Linked DNA regions of Homo sapiens: region 2 is linked to region 1. A link means that fine-mapping ties the variant in region 1 to the expression of a gene that starts in the linked region. Tissue or cell type: whole blood. Region 1 holds a variant in brackets; the other region holds the start of a gene. All regions are shown on one strand. Distances are from middle to middle.

What was found. PIP is the estimated chance that this variant, and not a neighbour inherited with it, causes the effect.
Region 2: FIG4 starts here. The variant in region 1 is fine-mapped to the expression of FIG4 in whole blood (TOPMed, PIP above 0.99).

What each region holds. Positions count from the first base shown.
Region 1 is chr6:109,541,555-109,546,882 of GRCh38, reverse strand. AK9 (adenylate kinase 9) reads left to right here. Exons shown (of 41, transcript NM_001145128.3): 26 at 756-1,016; 27 at 4,712-4,836. Among named protein-coding and RNA genes, the nearest start is that of ZBTB24-DT, 61 kb to the right of the region's middle. The variant G/A (reference allele first, on the strand shown) is at 2,415.
Region 2 is chr6:109,688,338-109,693,505 of GRCh38, reverse strand. It overlaps FIG4 (FIG4 phosphoinositide 5-phosphatase), which reads right to left and starts at 2,210. Exons shown (of 23, transcript NM_014845.6): 1 at 2,005-2,210. The coding sequence starts at 2,070. AK9 (adenylate kinase 9) reads left to right here and starts at 2,304. Exons shown (of 41, transcript NM_001145128.3): 1 at 2,304-2,359. RefSeq lists an enhancer at 2,257-2,726.

The sequences.
Region 1 (5,328 bases):
ACAGCCCTAGTTGCGAGACGTTTAACTGGTGGGTGAGTGAAGTGTTAATCCGGTAGTTTTATCACGGAGAGGTTTAAAATGTGATTTAAAAGTATGGTGTGAGGCTGCAGCTATATAATTTCATGTCATTCTAATTTTTCTCCTTCCCCTTGCAAAAACTCCAGCCCCTTTGAGGCTTATCCTACTCGGATATATCAAGAAGCCCCGTTCCTCCTTGCTGCTGTCACCTACTAATTTCTTAGTATTTCCTCACAATCACAGAAGACTTAGCTGCTGCTTCATTCCAGTACTCACCATTGTTCTTGACAGTTTCAGCATCCCGTGGATGATCCACACAATGTGAGTCCTGAGATTACTGTAATAAATGGAGAAGGCTGTAAATTTTTATTATTAGTGGGCTTTCTGTTTGATAGATTTATTTTATTATGTTAAGAAAGTATCTTTCCATTCTGTATTAACTAAAACTTTTGTCAAAAACAAAAATAAGTAAACTCTATTTTATTAAATGCCTTTTGGCATATGATACCAAGATAATCATATATGGTTGTTGGTGCTCCCTGAGGACCAGTGTTGATGGAACTAATTATGTTAATTGAAATCCTAATATCTAAGCATCCTTGAGTTCATGATGTGATCATTCCTACCCCATCTTAGGGAGGGCAGTTAATAAGTCTTATGTGTTCTAAATTACTCAAAACTGCTTTTCCTTCACTCTCCCTTTATCCCACCCCTCCCTGACCCACCCCCTGTGACAGGCTCCTCCATTAAGAATATGCCTTGTCGGCCCCCAGGGCTCTGGCAAAACTATGTGTGGAAGACAGTTGGCAGAAAAATTAAACATTTTTCACATTCAGTTTGAAGAAGTTCTTCAAGAAAAACTACTACTCAAAACTGAAAAGAAAGTGGGACCTGAATTTGAGGAAGATTCTGAGAACGAGCAAGCTGCCAAACAAGAACTTGAAGAGCTTGCAATTCAGGCCAATGTCAAAGTTGAGGAAGAAAATACAAAAAAGCAGGTAGTAATCTCTTTTTTTGTTTTTTGTTTGTTTTGTTTTTGCTGTTGTTATTGTTGTTGTTTTTGAGACAGGGTCTCCATCTGTCACCCAGACAGGAAGGCAGTGGCACAATCACAGCTCACCAAAGCCTCAACTTCCCTGGGCTCAGGTGATCCTCCTGCCTTGGTGTATTAGTCCATTTTCACACTGCTGACAAAGACATACCGAGACCAGGCAATTTACAAAAGAAAGACATTTAATGGACTTACAATTAGTTCCATGTGGCTGGGGAGGCTTCACAGTCATGGCAGAAGGCAAGGAGGAGCAAATCACATCTTACGTGGATGGCAGCAGGCAAAGAGAGAGCTTGTGCAGGGAAACTCCCCGTTATAAAACCATCAGATTTTGTGAGACTATTCACTATCACAAGAACAGCATGGGAAAGGCCTGCCCCCATGATTCAATTACTTCCCACTGTGTCCCTCCCATAACATGTGGGAATTCAAGATGAGATTTGGGTGAGGTCACAGTCAAACCATATCACTTGGCCTCCCAAGTAGCTGGGACTACAGGTGTGCACTACCATGCCCAGCTAGTTTTGGTATTTTTTGTAGAGATGGGGGTCTTGCTATGTTGCCCAGGCTGGTCTCAAATTCCTGGGCTCAAGCCATTTACCCACCTTGACCTCCCAAAGTGCTGGGATTATAGGCATGAGCCACTGTGCCTGGCAGTACTAATCTATGCAGACAGCTGTGCTTACTGGTGTTAATCTGGGGTAGTGGTAGTATAAAACTCTATAAAGTTTCTAAGAAGAGAAAATAATTAGCCCATAAAAGTCATTTAAAGAGTCATATTCATCATATGCTAAATACAAATCTTCCAGCTCTTCTAGAATATAAAGTACTGAGTTTTATATGACTCCAAAAAAATTCAGAAAAATTTTCCTTGACAAGGCTGTTTTATAGCATTTATTTGGAAGTATGATATTTGGTATATCTGACTTAGACAATAAACTTTTCCATTATTGTGTTCTCTGATTTCTATCAAATAGCATAAAAATCTGCCCCAGCCTTAGTGGAGATCTCAAAATATTAATTTCTAATGATGTCTTACCAGAAAGTTTGTACTGTATTAATCTGTTCTCTCGTTGCTATAAAGAAATACCTGAGATTGGGTAATTTTTAAAGAAAATAGGTTTAACTGGCTCGCAATTCTTCAGGCCATACAGGAAGCATAGTGGCATCTGCTTGGCTTCTGGAGAGGCCTTAGAAAACTTACAATCATGGCAGAAGGTGAAGGGAGAGCAGACACATCACATGGCCAGAGCAGGAGAAAGAGAGTGAGGTGGGAGGTGCCACACACTTTTAAACCACTGGATCTCATGAGCACTCACTCACTACCGTCATGACAGTACCAAGG[G/A]GGTAATGGTGCTGAACCATTCATGAGAAACCACCCCCATGATCCAATCACCTCTCACCAGACCCCACCTCCAGCATTGGGGATTGCAATTCCACATGAGATTTGGGCGGGGAAACAGATCCAAACCGTATTAACCTCTTACATGGCTTCTATCTGGAGTTATACAATGAAAGTTCTTCATTCTAACTCACATTTTAACCATTTCTGATATAGATAGGCCATTTGTTCTCAAATGATCCAAATGCAGTTATATGTAACACTCAAAGTTGAAGCAGGGTTGGATAGTGAGTGACATATGGTGTTCTAATAGGTAATGAAGTACCTGATCAGACATATTCTTTTTTCTTTTTGAGACAGCATCTCCCTCTCTTGCCCAGGCCAGAGTGCAGTGGTGTGATCTCAGCTCACTGCAACCTCTGACTCCTGGGCTCAAGCGATCCTCTCACCTCAGCCTCCTAAGTAGCTGGGACTGCAGGCATGCACCACCATGCCAGGGTAATTTTTGTATTTTTTGTATAGATGGGATTTCATCATGTTGCCCAGGTTGGTCTCAAACTCCAGACTTCAAGTGATCCACTCACCTTGGCCTCCCAAAATGCTGGGATTACAGGCGTGAGCCACCTGTGCCTGGCCTTCAGACATATTCTTTAAATGTTTTTCAGCTATATTTAGTAGCGTTCAGGAGAAACTGATATCCTATTAATTTAAAAAATGTATATCGGGACAGGCACGGTCGCTCACGCCTGTAATCCCAGCACTTTGGGAGGTGGAGGCAGGCAGATCACTTGAGGTCAGGAGTTCAAGACCAGCCTGGCCAACGTGGTGAAACCCCGTCTCTACTAAAAGTACAAAAATTAGCCAGGCGTGGTGACACATGCCTGTAATGCCAGCTACTCAGTAGGCTAAGGCAGGAGAATCACTTGAACCCAGGAGGCGGAGGTTGCAGTGAGCCAAGATCGCACTGCTGTGCTCCAACCTGGGCAACAGAGCAAGACTCCATCTCAAAAAAAGAAAAAAGTATGTCAGTCCAGATTTTTTAACTTAACAAGTCTAGATTTTAAAGTGCAACAAATATCTCCTGCTTGTCTACAGTTTTTTGTTTGGTTTTCTTTTATTGTTTTCTGAATAACTTGTCAGAAAGCAATTAAGGGATTTTATTTTTAGGTAATAAAATTAATCCTGCTTCCCGGTAAGCAGCAGTTTATCATACCTTAGCTATTCAGTTTTAGAATTTTGGATGACAAAAGTACTCAACAAAAATGTTTCATTTTTGTAAGAACTGTTGTTTTTTACTATCCATTCAAGGGTGATCCTACTTTAGAGAGACTTGACCTCAGTTAATTATCACAATGCTTTCTATTTGTTATTACATTATAATCCTCTTCTAGTTTGTATTTCAGATGGCTGCCTGTTTGGCTTATCCCATAATCAGGATCTAGGTTGGAGAGATAATACTGTAAAATTATAATATAAATAACAAAAATCAGTTAAGCCTTATAGGCGTGTGTGTGATAAATTGAAAAAGGTTTAGCAAAAAGTAATGAGATATGACCCCAAGGCCATGTATGAAAATCAATCATATTATTACTTATAATTTATCTTAGCTGTAGTAAATATTATTTACTATAGGTTGGTGCAAAAGTGGTTGTGTTTTTGCCATTACTTTTAAAGCAAAAACCGCAATTACTTTTGTACAACCTGTATTTCTAACCACATTAAATAATTGGTTTATAGAAAATAGCCCAAATTTTTAAATGTTTATAAGCAACACTATAAAAAAAGACCTCAGAGAAAATAACAGGTCTCATTCTAATCAGCTACGTAATACCATATTGTTTATGAATATAGATTTTGGGGTTTTCTAAATTGGTATTTGTACATATTTATGGGGTACCTGTGATATTTTGTTACACACATAGAATGTATAAGGATCAAGTCAGGGTATTTATGATATCCATCACCTTGAGCACTTATCATTGCTATGTGTTGGGAGCATTTCAAGCCCTCTCTTCTAGTTATCCTGAAATACACAATACATTGTTACTAACTATAGTTTCCCTCTGTGCTATTGAACATTAGAACTTACACCTTCTATCTAACTGTATGTTTGTACCCATTATCCTGCCTCTCTTCATGTCCTCTATCCCTACCACACACCCTTCCCTGCCTGTGGTAACTTTCATTCTACTCTCCACCTCCATGAGGTCCTCCTCTTTAACTTTCACATATGAGTGAGAACATGCAATTATTAGCATAGAGTTTTAAAACTTGTTTTGTTTTCTGATTTTTGTTTTTAGCTTCCAGAAGTACAACTTACAGAAGAAGAAGAAGTAATCAAATCAAGTCTAATGGAAAATGAGCCCTTGCCTCCTGAAATTCTTGAAGTAATTCTTTCTGAGTGGTGGCTTAAGGAACCAATACGGTATCTTAATTTATATAGAATTGTACATTTATTTGCTTTTATTTGTTTTATTCTTAAAAGTTAAAAATGTAGTTTAACATACATTTAAGAACTTTCTCCTTTATATTCATGTAAGCTGGTGATTTTTCACTTGAGATACACATTAAAAACATCTGTAGAGTCTTTAAAAATACCGATTGCAGGACCCCACACCAAAATAATTGAATTTGAAACTCTAGGAGTGTGAGCCTGGGATATTTTTCAGTACCCTCAGGTTATTCTAAAGTGCATTTGTGGTAAAACTGTAAAAACCTAAACAAAATAGCTAAATATTATGCACCATTAAAATTTATTGTAGGGCCGGGTGCAGTGGCTCATGCCTGTAATCCCAAAACTTTGGGAGGCCAAGGCGGGTGGATCACCTGAGGTTGGGAGTTCGAGACCAGCCTGACCAACATGGAGAAACTCTGTCTCTACTAAAAATACAAGATTAGCTGGGTGTGGTGGCACATG
Region 2 (5,168 bases), 150 kb before region 1:
TACTTAGGCAGTTGAGAGGGGTCACAGCTGAGTTCTGGAACACACCTCTATCTCTTTGTGTTAGAGCTCCTTAATCCACATCTATTGAGAGACTACTGTTTGCAAGGCATGACCAGATATGTGCTGTGAGGATCAGCAAGGTTTTGACAGGAAAAGAGGGGGTGTGGCATTAAGAGAATAGAGAACAGCAGAAAAACACAGGGCAGATATAGGGAACTGAAAGCAATACAGTTTTACTGCAGAATAAGGCATATGAAGGCACATGGTTGATCCTCAATAAATGTTTCATTAATTGATATTAAATTAGATGTAAAACTAGATAGACAAGTTGAGGACAAATAATACATGGCTTTGAATGCCAACTAAGGGATTCAGAGTTTACTTGCTTCAGAATTGGGACCACTGAAGATTTCTGAGCAGAAGAGCCCTATAATATGAATTGTGCTTTCTGAACACTAATATCTCACGCAGTCCTCATGAGTGATCAGCTTTTTAATGGGCTGAAATTTGTGTTTTATTTACGGCCAGATGCGGTGGCTCATGCCTGTAATCCCAACACTTTGGGAGGCTGAAGCCAGGAGTTTTAGACCAGCCTGGCCAACATGGAGAATCCCTGTCTTTTATTAAAAACACAAGAATTAGCCGGTCATGGTGTCACATTCCTGTAATCCTAGCTACTTGGGAGGCTGGGGTGCGAGAACTTCTTGAACCTGGGAAGCAGAGGTTGCAGTGAGTGAGCCGAGATAGCACCACTGCACTCCGGCCTGGGTGACAGAGCAAGACTCTGTCTCAAAGGGAAAAAAAAAAAAGTTATTTATGTTTCTAATGAGGGAAATTTAGCAGCATATTTTACAGAAAATAGGTTTCATTTCAATGACAAATGATACTTCTTTATGGGTCTCATTAGAGAACTGAAAATACTTGCAAATACAGTATATTTGATAATGTCATTTTCTGCTCTAGATCTAATCAAAGTTGTCAGCAAAATTAATTTAAGGTCCACAATTCTCTACTCATGTTAACCTGAGGGAGAGGTTATTGTGCTATTAGGACTACGTTATAACTGAGAAACTGTTAAATGCCTTCTCATACTCCTCTAATGGAGACAACCCAAGTTTCAGAGAAACAGTTTATAAAGCACTCTATAACATAGTGAAGAGCATTATGAAAATATCTGGCATATGCAATCTTGTTAGCATGAAATGGGTAATATTAAACACAGTCCCTAATATCACTGTGGCACCCCAATTTAGAAGAGCTATACTGTACCAACTTTGCTTTCCACCCACAGAAAGGACCAAGTATGAAGTTATATAAACACCATTCTCCCTTAATTGAGGAACTGGTAATCGAAATACAAACTGATCTGCTTATTCACTATTTACATGGCCATTCAAAGTAATAAAATTTTAAAAGTAAATGTTATGTTGAAAAAAGTCAAGTGAAAAGCAAGATGTTATCCAAACAAATTATCTGTCTTTAAACAAAGTAAGTTTTCCTTTCCTTTCAAATAAGAAAAAAAGAGAACCAAAAAGTTCACCAATAGAAGTGTAATTCACATGAATCGCAGTGATGGTATACCATGGAATAGGAAAAAATAAGTTACAAGTCATAGTTCAAATTTTTTTCATACCCCTGCCTGTACTGTAACTTGTGAACTCTAGAACTTTAACAGACTTTCTGAAAGCTGAAAAGAATCCAGTAACTCGTACAGAGAACCTCATGAACAGTTCCTGAGGTACCACAAGCACCTGTTTCCAGCGTGTTCCAGCCATGGCTTGTAAGTGGACCTGCAAATGCTGCAATGTCCAGGGTACCAAAATAGGGGAAAGGCGCCCAGGCACAGCTCAAGGGAGCTAGCTTACCCCAAGGCTGTGTTTGACAGGGATTTGGGAACTGGAGAGGAAGGAGGAGGAGGCAGAGTACAGCCTCTGTCCTACGGCCCCACACCCACCGGCAGACATCCATCCTCCCGCCTGCGCCCCGCCGCGAGGGGGTACTCACAGCTCTAGTCTCATACAGAACCAGCTTCTGGACCGAGCTGATGATGGGGGCGGCGGCCGTGGGCATGGCGGCGGCAAATGGGGGCCCCACAACAGGGCACGAGCCTCCGGACCGCCCCAGGAGACTCGGCGAGAAAACCCCTCAGGCCCTGGACATCAAGTCCAGCCAGGAACAACACCCATTAGGCACTAAACCTATAGATGATCAGGTGTTTCCGGATCCCTGCGCCCCGCCTCCAGGCAAGCCCCGCCCCTCACGTCGGGAGCGGGGCTGGAGGACGTATCATAGAGAGGTCGGGTAGAGGCTCCCGGGACCTGCGTGCTGCCGAGAGAGGAAGCGAAGGGCACCATCTTTGGTAAGGATTGGAGGAAAACATGGGCGGAGAAAAAGTCGACGGATTAATTGAGTCTATTTATCTCCTCCCTCTCTTTGGAAAAAAGCGGAAGGTTTGGGATTGGGTAGCTTCTTTTGAAAAGGGTTCTCCGAGTTGCAGGATAGATCCTTGTGTTTTCCCTGCCTGCTGCGGCCCATTTTCCTGGAAGCCGGCCCTCTGACGGTCCTTCACTGAGTGTCAGTTTTCCCCTCACCTCTAATCCATGTTGTACCTACGCTGTGTGGCCCAAGAAATTGTTTTAAAATCACCTAAAGCTGGAAAGTGTGGCTTTGCCACACGTTTGTGCGTGAGGCTAGCCACTTGAAGTTGTCGACAGAGACTAGCGCAGTGTGGCGGAGCCGCGCTTGAAATGAGGTTTCTTCATTTCATGTGTGCGACATAAATGGGCATGCGCGTACCCTCTCTTCCATAGTTGTGAAAATGAGTGTATTATAATTATAAATGCCAAATTAGGTACAAAAGTGACTATTTCGAATTGGAAAAGAAATGACAAAGAACTACAGCCCCGCCTCTCGAGGCCCCGCCCCACCAAGCAGCAGGTGCGTGGCGGCCAGAGGTCTCCCCGGCAACCGCCCGACAGCCCCGCGGAGTCCCTGGAGGCAGTTGCTTCCCTGAGGAGGGTCCGGCTGCGGCCAGGTAAGGAGCCTTCCGGCGGCCCGCTGGGTCGTGGTCCGCCCTGGAGGCATCTTGGTATCTGTTGCACGGAACCCCGCCTCCTGCGGGGACCCCCAGACCAGCTTCTTTTCTTGCAAAACGGTCTCTTTGTAAATCCACTTTTTAAAACCACGTCTCCTTTCAACGACTGAAGTATTTATTCCACAAATATTTACTGAACACCTACTGCAAGAGTATAAGATGTAGGGGAGAGGCAGCTATCCTATCTTAGGCGGCAATTCTAGGTTTCCCAGGAAACCTCTAAACCTCAGAAACCTCTGCTAGAGGGCTTCTCAACTGCTAAGTGTAAGGAAACTTTAAAAAAAAATTATAGAATTATAGCATACCCAGATAACATTCATGTAATACCAAAGATCATATTGTAAATTAAAATTTGAGAAATTACAAAAATTGTAAAGAAATACTTAAGTCTATGTTATTTTGCGCTTCTTTCCCCCTGTAGTTTGGTACTCCTTTTATTAAGAACTAGAAGGATGGCCGTGTCCGTTCTGGCATTTTGGACTTGGATCTTTTAACTGGGAAAAATAGTTAGCTGTGTTCTGTTTCATAATGAAACCAACTCTTCTGAATATTAGTTAAATGTTTGCACAGTGTTTTTATCTAGGATAGCAACTCTTAAAATACCTGAAGGATTCTAGTTTTCAATTATTATAGTTTAGCACTTCCATTTTAACTTTATCTTAGTTTATTTCACCCGGAATCAGATCCTAAGACAAAACTTTGAAGGCAGGTTGTTTATATGAGACGTAATCCCAGGAAACAGCAGCAGGGAGGGGAAGAAAACTAATAAAGGAAATATTACCAGAGAAATTTCTCTGTGGGCTGAATTCACTAGGGAATACTGGGAGGCATGTCTCAGTTATCCCCTCTTGAGGGGCAAGGAAGCTGGAGTATTTATTCGCCAACTTCCATCAGTTATTGGATGAAGCCTGATAGGGCAGAACATTGATGCCCTAGAACTTCCAGTCTACCCTGTGTTCAGGGAGAGTAGGTTCTGGCAGCCAGAGAAAGCCCTTAGGCAAAAAGTCGCACATGCTAACATTTTGGAAGTTGGGCTGGTCGTGCATAGAAAAGGTGTATGTCAAGTGGATATGGGGGAGGCACTAATAGCAGCTGCTACATTCCACCCTTTGCAGCACTCGTATCCATTCTTCCTCCACATCAAGTTCACACCATGCCACCCTAATTCTTTAAGGTAGTGGCTAGTCTCAATTTTTAAAAGAAAAGGACTTACAAAAAAAAAGATTAATGGGACAAGCTGCAGAATCCACTACTGCAATTAATCTGAGGTCTCTAATTGATCATCTCCTTCCTCTAACATCATTCTAGATTTTCCTTACTCTTGGCCAACACTTCTGCTGGTCTGTGTTTGCCCAGTAGGATAACAAGCTTTCATCCCTGAGGAGCATAAGCCCTTGGTTACTGTGTCATTGTAAGGTTTTGGTTGCTGCAATTACCCATTCACTGGACATGAAAGCATCAAGAGCTGTCTCAGAGAATCCCCTGAGTTCAAGAAATGCATCCCCTATCCCACTTATCTAGCAGTTTATGGCCATACCACCCTGAGCACCCCCAATCTCATCCAATCACATAGCAGCAACCCTATCTCCATCTGCCAGTGCAATAACTCCTTATGAGCTTTTGGAGTCAAAAATGACCAGGTGGCAGCAGTAGTTTTAAGATTTAATGAAACCTTTACTGGGTCCCCTGATAGAACCATCTCTCCCCTCCACCAGACCCAGGACCTCTTGTCCAGAAGTGAGGTGCAAATTTCCCAAGTCAATCACTGAGAGTATTAGTGAGAGGGGTCACTCCTACTTCCAGCCCTTGATTCAAAGCATGTTCCTCATCTTGAAGTACATTGTCTCAATCCCACACAATCCCAAGCTAGCGCCTTAGCTGTGCCTTTAAGAGACCATTCCAACATTCTGTCAAACCAGTAGCTTCTAGGTAAAGTGGTATTGTAAAAAGGGTCCTCTGATCCAAGGCAATGGTATATGAGATCTCATGAAGATAAATGAGACATACTCTAAACCTTTAGGTAGTGGTGCTGGCCAAGGCACTGCAGGTAGGAAAAACAAGCCCATATTAGGAG